Regions from separate parts of the Homo sapiens genome. Here region 2 is linked to region 1. The links come from fine-mapping of genetic effects on gene expression. Tissue or cell type: whole blood. Region 1 holds a variant in brackets; the other region holds the start of a gene. All regions are shown on one strand. Distances are between the middles of the regions.

Region 1 (8,107 bases):
TCAGTCCTATTGGAAGGTGACACAGCTGTAGTTTTACCCATCTTGAAAATGAGAAGGTGATTGGTCCAACCCCCTCTTACATAGATGAGGAAATGAGCACTTGAGATCTAACTATAAAGCCAGTTAGTAGCAAGTGGTGCCACTGATTAAGCCTCCTGATATTCGGTTATGTGTCTGATCAGCTAGCTTCAGACTAAACTGAGTCTTTTGCTTAATAATTTGCCTAAGAAACGCAGATACAACACACACACACACACAAACACACACACACGACAGAGAAAAATACAACTACCATGCATCATGTACACATCCAATACTAAGGAATCCAAATCAATTCTTCTTCTTTTTTTATTATTTATTTATTTATTTTATTGTTATTATTTTTTGAGACGGAGTTTCACTCTTGTTGCCCAGGCTGGAGTGCAATGGCACAATCTCGGCTCACTGCAATCACAGCCTCCCGGGCTCAGCGATTCTCCTGTCTCAGCCTCCCGAGTATCTGGGATTATAGGTGCCCGCCACTACGCCTGGCTAATTTTTGGTATTTTTAGTAGAGATGGGGCTTCACCATGTTGGCCAGGCTGGTCTTGAACTCCTGACTTCAGGTAATCCGCCCGCCTTGGCCTCCCAAAGTGCTGGGATTACAGGCATGAGCCACCATGCCCGGCCCAATCCTTCTTCTATTGGGGTTGTTATTAAAAGAGAATAGCAGAACAGAAAGAAGTCTTAAGAGTCCAGGCTCTGGAGTGGGCTATTGGGATGCAAAATAATCTAAAGTATTCTGTGCCTCAGTTTCCTTATTTGTACAAAATGGATGATGATAATACCTCTACCATAAGGTTGTTATAAATATTTAACTGGTTGCTATATGTAAAATGCTTAGAATAAAGCCTGACACATCAGTGGAAATTCACTATTACTCTCTCCATTGGACTGAAGCTGGCAGCTTTACAATTACAGCTGTTCACATACCATAGTCCCCATTCCTGGTACAGCTACCTTCTTTGTGGCTCTTCTCTTTAGATCAAAGTAGCACCAGATAGTGCAGCAAAAGATCATGTTCATGTTAGAGAAAACTGGTTCTTTACCTCGAATAGCTTCCCATATGTTCTGTGCAAGGTTGGTGCTATAATTTTTTTAAGTACCTGCAAATTTCATTCAGAATAACCATATTTAACTTTTCTCATATAAATGTGGTGGTTGTTCTGGTATGAGATTCAGCTCCCTGTCTGTTTGGGTCCTTGGGCTTGGTTCACAGCTTCTCAACAGCTGTCTTCAAACACGCAAGAATCTACCCTGCCTAGGCCGACTCTCCCAGACGTGGCCCTAGGGTGTTTGGAGCCATGCTACCTCAGGGTATTTTCTTTTTCTTTCTTTCTTTCTTTCTTTCTTTTCTTTCTTTCTTTCTCTCTTTCTTTCTTTCTCTTTCTTTCTTCCTTCCTTTCTTCCTTCCTTCCTTTTTTTTTTTTTGACATAGGGTCTCACTCTGTTATCCACGCTGGGGTGCAATGGCATGATCATGGCTCACTGCAGCTTCGATGTCCTGGGCTCAAGCAATCCTCCCACCTGAGCGTCCTGAGTAGCTGAGACTACAGACATGCATCACCATGCCCGGTTAATTTTTTTTTTTTTTTAATTTTTGCAGAGATAAGGTCTCGCTGTGTTGCCTAGGCTGGTCTCAAACTCCTAGGCTTAAGCGATCCTCCCACCTCGGCTTCCCAAAGTGCTGGGATTACAGGCCTGAGCCACCTCACCCGGTTGTATTTTCCTTCAATCAATGACATTCAGCTTCCTGCTGTCCCCTCCAAGAGTGTGAAGGGCTGGCATCAGGTTGTTGCTGGAAATATCAAGGCAATCAGAAGGCTGGATCATTCCTGTAGCAGTATTGGCTGAGTGTCCAATGGGCTGGAGCCATTGGAGAAGCCAGTTCTGACCATTACCCAGGGTTTACATCTGACTCCATGGGCTTCACTAAAGTTGTTGGCCTGGTTTGGATAGTAAGCACTTGAGTTTATGACTTCTAGATAATTTTTCACTATAGCAGCCAGAGCTCAGGGTGAGCAAAAGGGAAAACTGTGATATATTTATGGTTTCTCTCTGGCAGTGCCTTAGGGTGGTGCATTCTGGAAGGTGCTGGAAGTTGGGCCAGTAGGAGCTGAGGGGATGTGAATAAGGCACTGATAGCATCTGCCACAGTCCCTGATGGGTCCGTTCTCATCCACTTACATCCCACTTAAGTTTAGTCTGTCTTGTCATTGATTCTTAATGGGGGTGACTGTCAATACTTTTTTAAAGGAAAATAGGCTGGGTGCAGTGGCTCATGCTTGTAATCCCAGCACTTTGGGAGGCCAAGGCGGGCGGATTGCCTGAGGTCAGGAGTTCACGATCAGCCTGGCTAACATGGTGAAACCCCATCTCTATTAAAAATACAAAAATTAGCCGGGCACGGTGGTGCACGCCTGTAGTCCCAGCTACTTCGGAGACTAAGGCAGGAGAATCACTTGAACCCAGGAGGCAGAAGTTGCAGTGAGCCAAGATCGTGCCAGAGCAAGACTCCATCTCAAAAAAAAAAAAAAAAAGGAAAATAATTACTGCAGAAAGGTTAGTGGGCCAGGGTACAGTCCCTACACAGAAGCTGGTTCCTAGGTCATAATTAATATTTATGATCCCAGACCTTAAAGTCTGAAGGATCTGAGACCTCTGAGTTCCTTCATCTCTGTCAGTCCATAGTTTCTGTAACTGCCCATTTGGTTACTACCAGGAAAGAAAACACCTAGAGAGATTCCAACAAATCCCCTTAAGAACCAGCCTCTATAATATAATAGCTACTCTATCTCTTCCTGATAAACAGGTAACTTCTTTTTTTGCCTGTTGCTCTACAGGCATGAGGAACCCAAAATAACCAGATGGCAGCTGTTGCTTTAGGGCTAATGTAGTGCTTCCTGTGTCTGCTGGCAGAAGAGCTCTCCATCTGCCAGTTAGAAACCATAATCTCTGGTCCAGCAGACCAGACTAGGGGACAAATTCCCCAAGTAGACCATGGGAAGTGATAGTGTCAGGAGCCACTCCTCCTCTTACCCCTTGTTTCCTAAACCCGTGAGTTCTTCCTGCTGGGGGCATTGTACCCTCAACAACATTGATCTAGACAATATGCCACATTTTGAATGACACCACCAAAACACTGCAAGTGGCATTCTCAGGCTGGAACCCCAGCTGTGCCTTTAAAACAGCATTCAAATTTTCTACCAGACTAGCTCTAGGGTGATATAGTATAGAGTAGGACCAGTGAATACCATCGCTGTGTGTCAATTATAGTACTTCCTTCCCTGGAAAGCAAGTCTGTTGGTCCAGGAAATGTTAGGTGGGATCCTGAAAAAGCTAAATCAGACCCTCTGTGAGTGCTCAAATATCTTTCAAATGCTAGTGGTATTACAGAAGCCAATCCATCAATATCCCATCCAAATCCATCGTGAATATTACAGTACACAG[C/G]ATAATTACCTGCCACTTATATCCCATCCAAATCTATCATCAATGCCACAGTAAGTTGGGGTTTGCCACCATACCACTTACCACCAGCAATGGGATTTGCTTATTGCTACTTGTCAAGCAAGTGATGTAGCTCCAGACTGTATCCTAAAGATCTGCTTCCTAGGATTACTTCTCGTACCAACTGTCTTAGCTTGTGTTCCACCAGAAGCAGATGCTGAGCTAAGTTTTTGCGTGTAAGTAGTTTATTGTGTAATTGACCCCAGGAAATATCAATAACAGTGTGAAGAAAGGAGACAGGGACAGCAAGGCTGTCTATAAAGGGCACATTGCCAAATAAGCTTTGGCAACTATGGGCGACTGGAGCTAAATGCACTAAGGGGAACTCTAGAAGACCAAGTAGTGCACATTCCTGACTTATCTCTTCTGAGGGGTGAGGAAGCTGGCGCATTCATTTATCAGCTCCCATTTATCATTGGTAGAGGCAACTCCTGGGGGAAGAGAGGAGGGCTATTAACTCCCCTACATTTCCAGCCTGCCACAGTGTATAGGGACTGAAAAAACTGGGTGTAGGAGAAAACTTTCAGCAAGACTCACAAGTGCTGGCACTCAGAAGTTGATCCTGTATGCCCAGATGTGGGAAAGGCTGAGGCACTGTGGGAGTGGTCTGCTATAATGTACAGGAATTATATATGAATACCAGTGAGCGATTAATATGAACCAAGGGCGGCTCTATGCGCTATATGTGTGTCTCATGTATTTCTCACATCATGAGAATAGTAATAGGGCTTACCTATTTACTATCCTCATTTTCCAGATGGAGAATCTGAGGCTCAGAGGTGTTAAACAATTTCCCCAAGGTCATTCAGCTATTCAGTGGAGGTGCTTGGATTCAAAATCAGGGACTCTTCACTTTTCCAGAATATGGAGGACTATGATGCAACTGGTAGTAAGTCACCAACAGACACTGGCTGAGTGAGATTTTCTTTAATACCGAAGGCATTAAACATCATAGAGGCAACTAAACAAAGCAGAAAACCTCATAGCGTGCTCTTGGTTGTAGGTACTGATTTGAGTGCTTATGAGGATTTACAGCTGCAAATAATAACAACTATCTGGAATTAGGCCTTTAGCAGGCATGAGAAGCTATTTTGTTCCATGTGCACAGGTTTTTTACAACCTCCACATCCTACCCTTATGCTATCTAAAATGATTCTAAGGTCTATAGCTATATATTTACCCCAGCACATTTCTGAGGATTGATTGTGAGATTGGATGAATCAGTTGTCAGTTTTCTAGGTGCACTGTCATTCAGCAGGTCTAGGCTTCAGGCATGCATGAGGTTTTTCTTGCAGAGGGGAAGAGTGAGAAAGTGAGGATAAATCTCCTGAAGCAAAGAAGCCTTAGAGAGGACACAGTAAGAACTAGAAGGGCAAATGTCTCAGAGGCCAGTTAAGTATCAGAAAATGAGGAAAGCAGGCTCAGTGCACAGTAATAGGGAGTAGTGAGGACTGTGGCAAAAAGGCCAGCACATTCCCTGTCTGAAAGTGGCAGCAGCTACTCAGCTCAGCCAAGTACAGTAGTATCCCTTTATCTACCGAGATATATTCCAAGACACTCCCCTCCCAGTGGATGCCTGAAACCATGGGTAATACAGAACTCTATATATACTATGGCTTTTTTTTCCATCTAATAACTGAGACAGCTACTAAGTGACCAATGGGCAGGTAGCATCTATGCTGAACAAAGGGGTGATTCACATCCCAGGCAACACAGAGTGGGACTCAGAGATTTCATTACCCAGAACAGTGTGCAATTTAAACCATATACATTGTTTATTTCTGGCACTTTCCACTTAATATTTTCAGACTATGGTTGATCACAGGTAGCTCAAACTGCAGAAAGTGAAACTGTGGATAAGGGGGTACTAGTTTTACCATTTGGGAATGTGGCCCATTGCTTTCAGAGAATCAGCAATTTCGTTAGTTGAAAATACAAATTTCTGTGGGTAGTTTTCTAATTTTCAAATGTTAGTAGCTAATTTACAATTATCTAAAATACTATGTGGGCTAATTTGTGAGCTTTGCCTTAATGTTTGTAAGACTAATTGTCACTGGAAATGGAATTCTGCCTGCCTGTGACCCCTGAGTGATAGAAATAGAAGCCATAAGTGGCAGTTACAGAGAAATAGGCCTTGGTCCAAAATAAGAACACATTTTCTAATAATATTATTCAAAGGCAGAGTGTTCTTCTCTAGGGCATGAGTTGCTCATTTCTATAGATGTTCAAGTATCAATTGGTTGGCATCTTTGCCAGAACTGTGTAAAGGAAGACCAGGCATCAGATAGATGGGATGTTAGACTTCACATCTCCCTTTCAAACCTGAGCTCCTTTGAATCAAAAGCACTACTTTTTCACAAAGGTTTCAATTCAAGCTGGACTGGGCATTCAGAATGAGCCTTTTGGTTTTACTTTCTGTGTCATACGTAGAACACATGTGTGTCTCTTCTGGTCTGTAAATATAGGATGGGACTGAGATGCCTTTTTCAAGGGAAAATGTTTCAAAGGCTGATTATTACTATTTTAGACTTTCTATCTCTTGGGTTTGCCTTGCCCTGAGTTGGCCTGTGTTTCTTCAAATCCACTCAGCAAGGTTCAACTTGGTTTGGCTGTGTCTCTGCTGGTATTATTTTCTATGGAAATAAATGCACACAGACTCTGATAATTTATATACATTCAGATGTAACCATAAGGAGAAACCAACACTTTACTATATATTTTTAAATTTCCATAAATCTGGGATCTGGAAATGAACAATTTTTCTTCTGAACACACAAAATTGGCAAAAATACCAAATTTGCCAATATTGGTATTTTCTGTACCCTCAAAAATATTGAGTATATCAATATAACAATGAAAATGTGAACATTTAAGCAAAAACAATTTGGCCAATTAAACCAGATATACCAATTAATTCAATGACAAAAATAAGTCAAAGAACTCAGCTTTGGCACATGGAGGCATTCAAGACACCAGCATCTGTTTTATTTTTGACAGCAGCGTCTGGTCCTTATATATTCATCTAACACTTTCAGTAGATCTTGACTTCGGTATGAAACTTGCTCACATTTTCAGATCTACAAAGGACAGATTTTAACCATTATTCTGAAAATGCTTTCCTTTCCATAAGAAAATGAAGAAAAAAGCCTGCTTTATATTAAAATGCTTATTTTAGCCATGAAGATAAGCCCTAGCCATTCTCAGATGCTGAAATACTTTGGTTTGGAAGATCTTTACTGCATGGTTCTTGGCCTGGAGCCTTATCACGCTAGAGAATCCAATCCACGTGAATGTTCTGTTTTTCAATCATTTGTTTGCAAAGTCTAATCTGGAAGGGGAATTAATATTATTAAGGACATTTTATGTGCAAGGGCTGTGCCAGGCATTTAACAAGTATTATCTTGTTTAACCCTCACAATGACCCAGTGGCGGGGGCGGGGGGCATTACTACCTATACCTACATGAGAAAGCAGGCTCTGGAGCATCAGAATCAAATCAGAGCCTGGGACTCAGGGCAGCCAGCTCCAAGGTCACACAGGATTTTTTTTTTTTTTTTCTGCGTAAGAAAAATATTGGGGAAAGGAGAAGAGAAATCCATTGTAAACTTAGGTAATCCAAAATTAAATTTCAGGGACCATTTATGAAACTATCTCTTTGAATCGTAATTCCAGTTACACATTAAATTTAACTGTAGGGAGACCTGAGTACAAACATTCATTGATTAGCCTTACAGTAAATTTGTGAGATCAAAACTTCCTAAATCCTATTGCAGATGGTACTAGCCACTGACTTTGACTTTCAGCTGTTAGACTGATCATTAGCAAACAACTTCTGGGCCAAGTGCCCACATCAGTTTTGAGGGAACTTTGGGATTTTTCTTTGCTTTGATTTGTAACAATCTATGTACGCCTTCTTTGGTAACCCTGATGAGAGCTCAAAGTAGGACTTTAAGCAGATATCCTAAGGCCAATATCCCAATTCTGCGTTTGTTTTTTTCCTTGAGGTTTAAACAGTATGTTGAATCAACATTCTATCAAGAGCTTTTTTAGTGCTTTTACCAAGAAGTTGTTAGTGAGAGCTGCATTCAGTTCAACTTTCTTTCTCGGTTCCTTTCCCTACCCTGGTTTAGTGTGTTGAAAAATCCTTTTGCATCAGCATTTATGCAGCATATAATTTTTTTACTCTCATCCAACAGGCACATTTGGATTTACTATTTCACTTGAACAGTTGGTGTTTACTGGCAGCAACAAGAACAAAATTTATAGCAGCAAATGGAAGCTGAACTCGCATGCTGGCTTTGCACTGAAGAACTTTGTGTTTGCCATTTCCTAATTGTGAAAACAATATGTCCAAGATTTTGCAGTCATCAGCATTCTGATGTAACGACTTCCATCTGGTCAAAGGAAGAAATTCAGAACCTCTATCTCCTTTTGAATTCTACTTCAGTGCAAAGGTAACTGGCTTAGGAGAATGTTGGAAGACAAGAAATTCAGACAATACATTCTGAAAAGCGACTATAACATCCACTTTTCCAGGGGATAATTTTCCTGAAGAGCAAACA
Region 2 (8,107 bases), 130 kb after region 1:
TGTCACTAGGCATGAGGCTAAAGCTGACCTCTAGATAGTGTAGGCTTCCTGGAAATCTCTTTGGGTCATCCTAAGTCTGTTTTTGTCAATAGTTCCAGAAAAGCAGACACAGAGTTCATGGATCATATTCATTAATATCAAGAATAGAATTCACAAAAATAACAGTCAATAAGAATTCATGAGGCATCAACCTGTTAACAGTAATAATAATGATAATCATAATAGCTCAAATAGATGGAGATTAACTTTGGGAAGCCACTGACTAAATGCATTATCTCAGTAACCCTTTAGGTTAGATACCATTGTCCTCACTATACAGGGAGGAAACTGAGGGACAGAAAGGCTAAATAACTTACCCAAGGGCCAATGACAGGAAGTGGAAGAGTAGGTTTGAAATGCTCCATGGGACTTGACTGCTGTGCTATGCTCTCTCCACTGCAGGATCTCTAATGCCTGTCATCTGCGCCATGGGCTTTAGTTCAAGTGAGTCTTCCTCCTACCTTCCGTGGTAAGTAACACCACCAAAGAGATCTGATGTTGGGGAGGTTCCCACGTACTTCTAGGTGATACAAAATAGTTATTTCCATTCCCGGAAATCCTCCTGCAAGGATTTCTGAAACCATTCTATTGTATAAAATCTGTATGTTCCCAATTTAAAAATATACAAAACACCCTTCCAAGTCATTTGAATTAACACTAGTATTAAGGAAGCTAAGTCTGCATAACCAGCCCCCTGGAAAGACAGAATGCCATCTCCTCAAGTCTAAGTGCTGTGTAATCATTACTCTACAAACCAAGTGGAGATATTACCTATTCTGCAAACAGCAAACCAAGCAAAATTCCTAGGTGCTCCCAAGGGAACAAATCATGCAGAGAAACTGCTCTCTGCTTCTCTCGAAAGCCCTCGCTGTTCCCAGGGGCCCTAAAACTCATTATCCCCCTGCGGGTGAACAGCAGACTCCAGTAGTTGTATACTTCTAGAAAGTGGAAGCAGTACATCTAAATGTTTTCAAAGTTTGCTCATGACAAGGAAGGGAAGGATGGGGACTCAAGGGCTGGGTAAGTAAAGAGTGTTATGGACCAAGAGGGTCAGCAAAGAGGGGGCGGTAGAAAATGTAAGGAGAGAGAAAATTGATAGAAACAGGTCCAGGAGCAAGTGAAAGATTTGCTCCAGTGGAATTAACATGAATATACATGGGGATGGGGGGGCAGCACTTGAATTTTAGAAACAAAAATGAAGATGAGTAGAAATGCAATTTTTTAGGTAGAAAGATATTTCTGTCCACTGGCCTCTATTTTCTCAGAAAAGGTGTGAGCGGGTTGAGGTTTGGATGAAGAAGGCTTGAGGAGGATGGAAAATGTTTAGAATCAAAAGTCAATTAGAAAGGGCTAAAAGGATTTCCAAGTAGAAGTGACTGTGGCATTAAGCTAAAATGGCATAGTTTATAGTGGACTGCTTCCAGAGCAGAGGACACGGGGTTTAGTCCATTGCCACTGAGTTGGGTCAAGCCCTTAGACAGCTGTCTTCTGACCTGACTTTCAAACTGAAACCTACCCTTCTGTGATTTATCCAGGCTTCTGTGATTTACCTACCCTCTGCTTGCAAGACAATCCAAGGTCCTCAGCATGACACACAGGCCTTTCCCTAACTGGCCCCCATTTGTGTCTCCAGCATCAGTTTTTGCCTTCTGCCATATTGAACTTAACTGTAGTTCCTCTAGAGCCTCAGTCCCTTTCAGTGCTGCTGGGCCTTAACCAAAGTATTCTCCTGAAATATTTTTCCCTTTAATGTCTGGAAAATAACATGTATTTTTTTTTTAAAGGCTGCCTCCTCTGAGAAGCCTTCCAGGGTCACCTTAGGTAAAACTGATTGTCAGTCTCTCTTTTTGCCAGCCTTACCTATGCCCTGTATGTGCTACTGACATCACAAGTCACTTCATATTTCATCTATTTTAAAATGCACTTTTATTCACATTTTTTAAAAATCCCTGAAATCAGCCAGATGTGGTGGTACAGGTTTGTAGTTGCAGCTACTGAGGAGGCTGAGGCAGGAGGATCACTTGAGCCCAGGGCTCGAGGCTGTAGTGTTATGATCGCACCTGTGAATGGCTACCACACTGCAGCCTTGGCAACACAGGCAGACCTTGTCTCAAAAAAAAAAAAAAAAAAATCCCTTAAATTAGCATGTAACTTATAATCAATGGTGTATCATAGTTCAATGACAGGATTAAAAAAAATTTTGGTGATACCAAAAAAAAGTACATCTTACATTGGAGAGCATTTGGTGAAATGCAGCTTCATTTTCTAACTTTCTAAAGTGAGTGTAGGAGTGCTTCTCATCTTGCCTCCCACCCCACCGCCCCCGCCACCTTTGGCAGTGTCTGGAGACATTTTTGGCTGTATCAACTTGCGGCGAGGAATATGCTGCTGGCATCTAACAGGTAGAGGCGAGAGATGCTGCTAAACATCCTCTAATACACAGGACAACCCCCGACAACAAAGAATTAGCCAGGTCAAAATGTGAATAGTACAGAGATTGAGAAACCCCTACGTAGAGAAACAATACCTATTTGGGTATATAATAGGCTTTATTATGTTTGATTTTAAATAAATCTTTTACAGTGTATAGTGCAACTTAATGTATAGCAACTTTTTCCAAACCTTGGCTTGTACAGAATAGCAACTCTTGAGACATATTCTAAGCTCTCCTCATCACCCCTCCCCAACTCCTTCTGCTAGATGCCCCAGGGAAATAAAATACAGCAATGCTCCTGGTCAAAATCTGAAAGCCAGAATGTCTCAGAGAGATTCGTGACCTTAAACCAATTAGGTTAGTTAATGGCAAGTCCAGGACTGAAACCCAGACCCCCAGATTTCCGCAATCTCACTCAGCCTGGGAGACAGCTGCTCCCTTCCCGGGCTAAATTGGCTAACACAGTTTGGTACCTTAAGAGGAAATGTGCCCTACCTATATGAGCTGGGTGACTTAGCAAGAGTTTAGCATTTAGTATTCACGCTTTAACACCCGGGACCCACCCAGCTCTCACCCCACTTTATGAGAATGTAGGTTGACTCTGTAAGACCCCTTAGCTCTGTGGGGAATTGGATTTATGCAAAAAATAATAGTGATTCATGAATGTGAAGGAACTTTAAATAAATGTAGATGATTTCATCATACAAAAGGCAGAAGGGACTTAGTAAGTGTATTTAAGGCTCTGGAGGAAGCGTTATTAATTTGGAAAGTGGGTGGGGGGAGCTGTCCTCTATCCCTACAAGCTGCACGTGTGGAAAGGGCCTTTCTAGCGCAGGAAGCTGATTTATGTGAGAGAGGAAGGAGTTCCAGGGGGAGGTTTTGGCAAGGCAGTCCCCACATCTCGGTTGTGCCAGCCAGGCGGGCCTCAGGTGGGTCTGGGGCTCCCTGCCCCTCCTGCTGAGTCCCCAGAGTGTCCCCCGCCCCCTTCCTTCTCCCACTGGGGCTGAATCACAGTGGGCAGCAGTGTTTGGGATCCTGCGATCCACCCATCGCCATCCCAGCAGCCCCACCCTTGGAGGATGGGAGGTTACCCTGCACGCCAGAGGGGATGGCGGGGGCCAGACTCACCTTCAGGTGAATGGGAAAGGACCGCTCCTGCTGGAGGGGCCCCAGCAGCGTCTGCTCCACGCTGACCAGCTCCGAAGTCGAGTCCACCACGCGGGCCAGCGCGCTGCGCATCGCCATCTGGGCCAGGGTGCAGGGCCCGCGGTCCCGGGGGAAGGGCAGCAACTCGGCGCCCCCCTCAGCGCCTCGCACTACCTCCTCCTCTGGGGAGTTCGCCCGCGCCGCGGTCCGCCGACTCCTGGTCCCCACGCCCCCGCCCCGCTCCTCGCGCCCGGGCCCCGGCCGGGCCCGCGGCGGGCCTGAGCGACGGGCTGGAGCGGTGGACACGTGGTCTGGGTCCCGCGGGTTCCCGGGGGCGACTGGACCGTCCCCCCAGCCCCACTCCTGCTGCAGCAGCTGCAAGGTCTGCAGAGCCACCATTTGGTGGCTGATGGAGGCCACTAAGGGCGCAGGGCTGGCCATCGCCTCCGCTGGCGGCCCGGCGCGCTCCGCGTGCAGGTGGAGCAGCAGCGAGGGAGGCGGGGGCGTTGGGGTCGCCAAGGTCACATTTTCTAACCCGCGGCTCCTCGGCCTCTGGGTCTCACAGCGTGTGTGGTCGGCCCCGCCCCCGGCTCTGAATCGGTGACCCGTGCTGGCCTCTGCCTTCGCCTGAAGTCCGAATCAGGCGTGTTCTGACCCAAAGCTGCCTGAAGCGCTGCTCGGTGTGCACTTGAAAATCAGCGAAATGCTGAGCGTTGCTTCTTCCCTCTCTCCAGGGCTTTGATGAGAAAACGTGCTGCTTTGTGCGGGCGCATCCATCGGCGGGGATACCCCGCCCCCACCTCCTTCGAAGGATGCCTGCCAATGACCACTGAGGTCTGGGAGGTGGGGGTGCAAAAGACCCACTCTAGGGCAAAAGTACGAAGGGCTCTAGAAAAACTTGCAAAAGGAAGACTGTGCCTTTCCCAACCCGAGGGGAATTTTCAGAAACTTGTTGAAGCAGCCTTCAAGGCCTTGCATCCCCCAAACAAAAGAAGGAGGAGTTGTGTATCTGGAAGTTCTGCTCTTCTCTGCTTTGCTGGGTGCCACTTGAGCACCGAGAGCCTGGTGGCTGAACTAGCATCAGCAAGCCTCAAGGCCCAGGCCTGGCACTGCCCAGAAAAGCCTAAATGTTTTTTTGTGACACTCCCAAAAGACTTAGGCAGCAAGGTTGAAGTTAATCCTTTTATGAGCCATGAACTTAGGGACAGCTGTACAAATAGTTGCTGTTTTTAATTAAACCCAACATGGCTACTTCCTTAACTTAGAAAAAAGCGACTAGCAATGTTATGCTTTGATAGATTGGAAACCATGGGTGTGTGATCACACTTAAGAAAATAGAAGATATTTGAGAGGAGTGGTATGGAAAACCAGTCCGGAGCAGCATTGTTCCTGCTTGCTTTCTGCAAGGAAAACCACTAGACAACCCAACAGCCCAGTAAAGCCAGGGCAATGGTGCATGCCCACGACAGACAGGTGGGCCCTGGCAGACCTGAGGATGGAATTGCATTACTCCTTTGGGAGCCAGACTGCACCCTTGGTGCTGTGCAGATCTGGAGAGGCTTTTGAGTGAAAAGGCCACACTGGTTAGTCTGTGAGCACAAAAGGATCATCAGAAGAGATATGGAGAGGGATGTTGGGTCCTTTAAGGTTTCCTTAACCCTGGGATAGTATGACCCCATATAATCCTCCCAACTTGCCAGCAAAGGTTCCTTCTCCTTCCCAGTGCTTTCTTCGCCTATGAAAACGAATCTGAATGCCAAGGTAAAGAAAACCTTTCTTAAACAAAAACGAGTATGTTCACACTAATTATAACTAAGTAAAAATGCACGTCTGTGCATTGACAGAGAGGAAATTACTTTGGAGGGAAGTAAATAGTTTAATGTTGATTAGATTTTTTTGCCATGAAGTTACTTAAGTTCATAATAAAAAATAGAAAGAAAAAAATTTTCTTTTTAAAAAAAGTCTTCAAATGTTGAAATATATTAGGTTCAGCAGAGACTAACCAGCAATAGCAAAAATGAACCCCTAATTTTCACAGAGCATGTCAGATCTCTAGGGCTGCCTCTCTTTCCAGATACACAGGAAATTCAGTTTCATGGGCTAACCCTTCCACTATCAAATGGCTGACTGCAAAACTTTCTTGACAGTTGGAATTGCAGCCAAGAGCAGAATTGAAATCACTAGACACAGGCTGACCTGAGGCCCCACTCTTCTACATACCACACTGAGTCAGAGCCATGAGACCAACTGAACCTCAGGGGGCATGACAGAAGGGTGCCAGAAAACCTTGGGGCCTGAGGGATGGCACATGCTGCTTAAATTGCTGCCTGCTTTTTCTAGTATTCTTAGGAAGCCCTGGATCATCTGGCAACTGAGTGTTTTGTCTGTTTTGGCTGTGGGTCGCACTGTGTTTTGCTATGATCTCAAAATGGCTTGTGTTCCAAAGCTAGAGATATGAGAGCCTAACTCAGGAAAAATTTTCATAGTCTATTTAGATGAGTCAATAGCATAGCAGATCTACCTTTGGTCTAAAACACCTCCGTAGTTACGTTTGCTGGGCTACCAGACGAAGTAACAGATAGCCTACTTCTTACCCACTGTACTCACGATTTGAGGCCATTCTGTAATAAAGGGCACATTCAAAAGGACAAAGTATTAGATATCTGATATGTTTGTTTCACAACATATATTTCACTATTTTATAGAAATCATACCCTCATTTCTCAGTAGATATGCCTTTTCCTCCACACTCTGCCCGTGAAGTCAGATGGGATGAGCCCATCTCACTGCAGAAGAGTACTGGATCATCTAGCCTAAGTCCCATCACACATCACATCCCCACAGTGCATGCATGGTCAGGAATGGGCACATGACCCAGCTAGAGCCAATGAGACAGTATCTTTTAGGATGCTTTCAGCTGAATGCACTGTAAAAGAGAAAACAACAGATGCAAAGAGTACAGGCCAAAAAAGAAGTGTAGGCCAAGAGATGAAACAGCAAAAGATCAAATTCCCTTTAAACCAGAAAACTCAACATAACATAGTTTAATCAATAAGAATAATTTATTGTCTCACATCACAAGAAGTCCAAAGGCAGAGTGGCTCCAGAGTTGGTTAATATAGCAGCTCCTCAGTGTCATCAAAGCCCTTTGTTCCTTCCTTCTTTCTGCCATGCCATTCCCAGCACATCAGCTTTGTCCTTAATTTTTGGGCTAGTTCTCCTATGGCTACTAGCAGCTGCTGGCATCATGTCTAGACAACAATAACTAGAAGAAAAGGCCATCTTTTCCTGTGTATTCCTTCTCAAGAGCAAGGAAACACTTCTCAAAAGCCTTCAGCTGGCTTCCTCTCACATCTCCTTGACCAGAATTGTGTCACATGTTCTTGCCTAATTAATCACAGTCAAGAGGAAAGAGGCTACCATGAGAGTCTAAGGTGAACTAGAATTCAGTGTAGGAGTTGGGGCTGAGCCTAGCCTCTCTCAAAGCAATTGGTGGAGGGAGGATGAAAACTACTTGATATGAAGCAAGGTTTTGTTACCAAGCATCAGCAATGGCAACAGAGAACAATGAGGATTTTGCAGGGGTTTCCAGGTAAAGAATATATCAGATTTCCAGGGCTGCTTCTCTTTATCAATACACAGCAAGTCCAGTTTCATGAGGCTGATCTTTCTACTGTCAAATATCTGACTTCAGTGACCCCTGTGCAAGTAAAGCTGAGAAGATACAAGTTCTGGAGCCTCTGCAGCCATCTTGTGAGTTTGATGGGGACAGCCCGCCTATGAATGAGCCAGCACTCATGGAGAGAAGACGTTCATGAAACAAAAGCCAACAGATGTATAGAGAGAAACCGTGGCTGTATAGCAGCATTTGAGGTCCACATTTAGCAGCACAGGAAGTCAGCCCCACCTCTGAGCTTTTCAGTTATACGAGCCGATGAAGTCTCTTTTTGCTTAAGCCTCTTTGGATTGGATTTACTGCCTACTGCAACAGAAGGAGTCACAGCTGAAGCAAATAGCCTGACATATGTTATAGGAAAGATGGCATGTTCATGGAGTGACCCTGTGACCCAGTGCCCCTTAGGCAAGGCACTGCCAGAAGGTCCCTCCAACCAACTACTTCTAGCAGTGCTTATGCCATTCACCTAACCTTTCTACAGTCTCAACAATTGTGGGAAAAGCTCTTTGGGTAACTCTGATGGGAGCATTTTTAAATGAGCACTGGAAACATTCAGCACCCTGTGGGATGGAAAAGAGAAGAGGGTAGAAAGCTCAGTGAAGTGAGAAGCAATTTTCTACCTGTTAATGGGCAAGGTAGAGTGTTGTTAGATAAATGAATATTCTGGCACTTCTGTTAATCCAAAGTTTCCTTTCCTGCATGAGCAAAAGATGCAGGTTCCTATGTGGAATCGTGGAGAAGCCGGGCACAATGAGAACCGAAGGGAGCTGGCAGAAGGTACAGTTCTGTGGAGCTGTCCTCAAAGGACTTGG

The links. PIP is the estimated chance that this variant, and not a neighbour inherited with it, causes the effect.
Region 2: DLEU7 starts here. The variant in region 1 is fine-mapped to the expression of DLEU7 in whole blood (TOPMed, PIP above 0.99).

Annotation. Positions count from the first base shown.
Region 1 is chr13:50,704,797-50,712,903 of GRCh38, forward strand. It overlaps a transcript of DLEU7 not described here. Among named protein-coding and RNA genes, the nearest start is that of DLEU7-AS1, 99 kb to the right of the region's middle. The variant C/G (reference allele first, on the strand shown) is at 3,490.
Region 2 is chr13:50,839,587-50,847,693 of GRCh38, forward strand. It overlaps DLEU7 (deleted in lymphocytic leukemia 7), which reads right to left and starts at 4,106. Exons shown (of 2, transcript NM_001306135.2): 1 at 3,602-4,106. The coding sequence starts at 4,060. DLEU7-AS1 (DLEU7 antisense RNA 1) reads left to right here. Exons shown (of 5, transcript NR_046551.1): 4 at 442-508. RefSeq lists an enhancer at 3,036-3,962.